Linked DNA regions of Homo sapiens: region 2 is linked to region 1. A link means that fine-mapping ties the variant in region 1 to the expression of a gene that starts in the linked region. Tissue or cell type: thyroid. Region 1 holds a variant in brackets; the other region holds the start of a gene. All regions are shown on one strand. Distances are between the middles of the regions.

The links. PIP is the estimated chance that this variant, and not a neighbour inherited with it, causes the effect.
Region 2: it holds the start of ANO3, and the variant in region 1 is fine-mapped to the expression of ANO3 in thyroid (GTEx, PIP above 0.99). The same link has a PIP of 0.9 or more in nasal epithelium.

What each region holds. Positions count from the first base shown.
Region 1 is chr11:26,572,012-26,574,701 of GRCh38, reverse strand. The region is part of intron 14 of ANO3 (anoctamin 3); the gene reads right to left. It overlaps MUC15 (mucin 15, cell surface associated), which reads left to right and starts at 2,439. Exons shown (of 5, transcript NM_001135091.2): 1 at 2,439-2,661. The variant T/C (reference allele first, on the strand shown) is at 1,492.
Region 2 is chr11:26,330,732-26,333,421 of GRCh38, reverse strand. ANO3 (anoctamin 3) reads right to left here and starts at 1,292. Exons shown (of 27, transcript NM_031418.4): 1 at 1,101-1,292. The coding sequence starts at 1,146. It overlaps LOC105376598 (a long non-coding RNA gene), which reads left to right and starts at 1,448. Exons shown (of 3, transcript XR_931138.3): 1 at 1,448-1,560; 2 at 1,787-1,902.

The DNA of each region.
Region 1 (2,690 bases):
TAATCCCTCTATTTCTATCCTAATAGAATATTGAAATAAATTAAATGTTATCCCCAAATACATTTCCCAGCCGTTAAATTCTATTTTATTTATAAAGAATATCATTAAAATACTCTCAAATAATAGATTCATAATGTAATTTATTTTACTATTATTCAAATATTTCTTATTTGCTTAAAGTACCTATGTCCCTATGGGGAAACAAACATGAATTCCACTTGTAGCCTGTATCAGACTAAATATGCTATCAGTGAATCTGATCAATGCAAATTCCCTACATGTGACATCAGCATCAAGATTTGATGCTATAGGATTTGTACAAAAAGATACTCTTTTGGATTCAAAACAATGTTTTCAATTAGTTTGAAGTGTGGTCCCAAGCTATGTCTGCTTCTGTATTCAGATCCATTAGTGATATTCATGTGTCTTCGTGTTCTGGAAACTCCACTTGTGAGTGGTTCTATCATTGCAGACTAGGAAGAGGTTTTTCTTCCTCCCAGTATGTATTGTGAAACGTAATTAATGAGTGTAAAGCAATTGGTGAGTGCCAGATGAAAGGCACCATAGTGGGTAAGTACCAAAAAAAATTATACAAGCACTGCACAGTGTGTCATCTCAGCTGGGTTTGCTGATGAAATTGCAGGTAATTATCTCTCATTGTGGAGTTCCTCTGGAGAAAGGAGGTCTAAAGTGGGATTGGTCTTACCTAGAACCTAGGACTGTATCTCAGTGAAACTTGTTTGTTTGGCTAGAAATTACTTTTTAACTCCAACTCCATGAGTAAACAAAGGTTTCTGATAACAACTAAGTGAGCTAAGTAACAACTGAGGCATTAAATTTACGTACAGTTTACATTTTATAAGTTTATTTCCAGATGTGCTCAAGACAGTGAGGGTAGGTAAGGTTTATCTCTAGGGTGAGGTCTAATCAATTGATTATGATTGTAAGGAGGGCAATGATGAATAGGATTCTGGGCCCACAGAAAGGGTCTTCAGGAAAAAGCAACATGAGAAATTAGCGGGACTTTTATGGCAGTGAAAACGGAGAGCTATAGCAAAAGTGCATTGCAATGTTTATGCCTGGTATAAGCCATAATTACTATGGTTAAGGCAGAAGGGGATAATGATATTCCCACACATATTGCAGAAAAGGCCTAGGGAAAAGGTGCACCCAGTCCTGCCCAATCATGTTCAGTTCTCTAACTACAAACAGAAAATATATTTAGTTGGATTTTTACCTAAAAAGTGGCTAATCTGAAAATAAGCCATTGAATTCTATTAAGCCACTGTTCAGTAACTAACTGTTTGATTAAATTTAACCTGCTTTTCTTCGTACCACAGTAGAGACAGCTTAAATATCTTTTGAGACAATATTTTTTCGGGGTTGGTTTAATTTCTAATCAAACTCTGAAGGGGCCTTTGGGCTTCAGAAAATTTAAAACTATAGAATTACCTTGTTCTTTCCTCGGGCCAATTAACTGGGCAGATTCTT[T/C]GCATTCCATTTGAAGCTTACTAGCTCCTGCATTTTAGCTAAAGTTTCGTTTCTCGCTCAGCAGTTGAAAACCTATCTCCTTGTGCAGCAGAAACCAAGTATGAACCTCAGGCATATTGAGCTGAACGGCCCTTGGCGCCATCCCCAAACGCTGATGTGCGGAAGATCCCAGTTTCACTCTTCTCCCTTTCATAAGCTCTGAAAGGAAGTGTAGGAAGTATGCCAAGTTGTTATTCAACTCTAGTATTTAATCAAGCATTACCTGGGCACTTCTGAAATTCTCCAGCTTCTAAAGTGAGAGTAAACCAGAGAGAACACAGGGTGGAAACTACTTAATCGAGAAGGCTCCTAGGATAAGTGAGGATCACATGGCCATTCTCAGGCCCCAGTTCCTCTCCAAACTCCTGAAAGTCAGCAAGAAACCGAATCTCAGTCATGATGATTATTTTTCATGTAACACCTCACAGCGTTCTCAGGGATCCCAATATATGCTACTAATTCACTTTGTGTTAAGTAGGAGTTTCTTAAAAAAACAATTTCAGTGGACCTCAGAATAGACGCCTCACTACTGACCCCACTACATTTTCTCTACTTAGGCTTTAAGTACACAAATAGGGCAATCTACTAGAGTACAGAAAAATTGTTTATGATTTCAGAGAATGTGCGGCTGGCATAGAGCAACAAGTGCAGGGCATGACTTGTTTGGATTCCTCACCTGCAAGGAGCAGGGGGCCCAGCACATGTCAGAAATTCCTGCTATACCAGATGACTTTGCCAAAATCTTTGTCCTTTTTTTCACTTAGGGTGAAAAAAAAAATTGATGACCCGTGTTTTGCTACCACTGACGAGAGTAATACCTTGTCCCAAAGCTAAAACGATCAACCTATGAAAACTGGAGGGTTGGGCTTTTGTTGTTGTTGTTAAAGGCCTGAATGAGGTGATATCTTAATGCTTACAGCTGAGAAGCAGGTCAGTCAGGTTCCTGGGCGCTCTGTTACACAAGCAAGATACAGCCAGCCCCACCTAATTTTGTTTCCCTGGCACCCTCCTGCTCAGTGCGACATTGTCACACTTAACCCATCTGTTTTCTCTAATGCACGACAGATTCCTTTCAGACAGGACAACTGTGATATTTCAGTTCCTGATTGTAAATACCTCCTAAGCCTGAAGGTAAGTGTGCGTTGGGTCACTTAGGTCTC
Region 2 (2,690 bases), 240 kb after region 1:
TAGTCCCAGCTACTCAGGAGGCTGAGGCAGGATAATGGCATGAACCTGGGATGCAGAGCTTGCAGTGAGCCGAGATCGCGCCACTGCACTCCAGCCTGGGCAACAGAGCGAGACTCCACCTCAAAAAAAAAAAAAAAGTCAAAGAGCTACATAAAAACAACTGTTGATGAAAGAAATACAAATAATATCTGGAGGGTGGGGATGAGAATATTTAAGTAAATATTTACTTTGAATGAACAAATTCAGCATTCCAGAATTCACACATCTAAGGCACTCTATGGTTAACTGTATCATAATTACCATTATTAATTCAGCAAAGTGGCAATTGTGTTAATTAATGCTTCTGGATAATAAAACTCCAAAAACTGTGAATGTGCCTCAAAATAAAAATGCTCTGTAAAAAGCCTTTTAAACCAAATAAGAAACAAAGATCAAAGAGTGAGGATAACTTGAACATACAGATTCTTGTCACTATGCCCAGCAAGAAACTTGAGGGAGAAACTAAAAGACATAATACGAAGCCCCTAGAAGAGAAACCTAACCTCAAGAACTTGAAACCCAGAATCAAGCATGGGACATGGGCAAACAATAAATTTTCCCAAGGAAGTGACAGAGCCCCTTTAACTGCAACAGGCCAACTCTGGAACTCCCCCAAGAATTCATTTATCTTATGATTGTGTAAATGCGTCTCAAGGAGTAGACACACTTTTGTGAAGATTACTCAACATTTGAACCACAGAAGACGGCAGATATTGTTGAACATTTCTGTCCTCACCCCTCAGAGCTCTACTGAGCTATTCGGACAATCCCTACTAAGCGGGTTTACTGCAGTGCATTGAAACAGTCTTCACAGAGATATACATTAAGTCAAGTCCTGAAATGACGAATTCCGATACTCCCAGGCACTGTGCGGAGGCTCAGAAAATCACTCATCTAGGATGCAGAGTGAAGAGGAATTTAATTTTTTTTTTTTTTTTAACTTCACAGAGTTCCCCACCTCTGTGTCGCATAAGCCTGCAAAGGATGCTCCTACACAACTGCAAGGGCATGCAGGGGGGAAGTGACGCCCGCAGGGAGAGGGGAGCAAGATTCCAACTGACCTTTTTGCTGTTTAAAGGACTGAATGGAGCCTGAATGGTGGACCATTTTCACTCTGCGCGTCCCAGCCGGCTTAGGGAGCTGCCCGAGAGGGAGGCGGAGGAACAGTAGCCAGACTCTAGACGCTCCAAGGTCCGGAGCCTCAGCGAGCGCACTGCAATCCGACACCTGCTGTAGCCGGCACTTCGCTCTCCAGGCTACGCGCCCGCCGGTGTCGTTGTCATGGGAACGCGGGAGGGCGGTCTAGCGTCCGGCTCCCCTTAGCGGCTACTCTGGGAACAACCCCGCATCCCCCGCGCGTCCAGTGCCACAGTGAGGGGTGGGCGTTGAGCGGGGTTGGCTGGGAGTGGGAGCAGAAGACTTTACTGGAGGAGGAGATATAAATCGGAGCAAACCTCTAGAGCTGATACTGATGCCCTCTTTGCCAAGCTTTGAGGCTGGTTATTTATTTCCTAAAAGTTGGTAGGTAAACCCTGGGACTTTTAAGGAAGGGCAAAGTTGGTCTGTGCTCTGAGAGGGTATGCAGTGGCAGATGCAGAGACGTTTCTGTTTTTCTTTCTTAAATTTAAGTAGAGGGGGCAGAAAGCCACCCCAGCTTAGTTAGCCAGTAGCATGTTTTATTAGGTAAGCTGTGTTCTATGTCTAGCACTTTTCACTTGAGTTTTCCTCTTCTTCTTCTGCCATTCAGGCCTTGAATCATTTATGATGATGATGACTGAGGACCATTTATAACCTACTTAGTCACAGGGGCTGAAAAAACACTACCCACGATGCTCGATTTAATCTTCATAAAAGCCCTGTAATGTAGGTAAACTATGATTCTAATATTATAAAAAGAAACTTAAGATCAGAGCAACAAAGATTTCTCAAGACCACATAAATCAACACCTTATTTGAAAGAGAAGGCACCCGATACCCAAAGAAGTGAAGTAACTCTTTTTGTTTAGTTTGAGAAGTTTTATTTTATTATTTATTTATATCTTCACCATGTATTTTAAGTTCGTGGTACATGTGCAGGATGCGCAGGTTTGTTACATAGGTAAACGTATGCCATGGTGGTTTGCTGCACAGATCACCCCATCACCCGGGTATTGAGCCCAGCAGCCATTAGCTATTGTTCCTAATGCTCTCCCTCCCCCTCCAACAGGCCCCAGTGTGTGTTGTTCCCCCATTGTGTCCGTGTGTTCTCATCATTCAGCTCCCACTTTGAAGTAACTTTTGAAAGACCAAACTGCAGTGGCCAAAATAGGACCAGAAGCTAGCTGAACACATTTTTCAGTAGGATCTCCTTTCCTCCATCTATCTCTGCTCCCTGATTCAAAGCCCTAAGTTCTTCCTGGAAGATGTAAGATGTTATTGAACAGACACATCGTGAGAGTCCGTTGCTTCCTCAGTTTTGAAGTTTTATGGAATCAACTCAGAATCAGGTGAATAATCCAAATAAAAGCAGATAAAAAATATGCAGAAATTTCCAAACTTTCGATACCTCAAAAATATTGAGTTATTATTGTATGCTGTTTGATTCATCTGTGGTGCATGATACAAAAGAATGAGGGGAATATAGCTTTGAACAAACAGATGCTCCAATTATT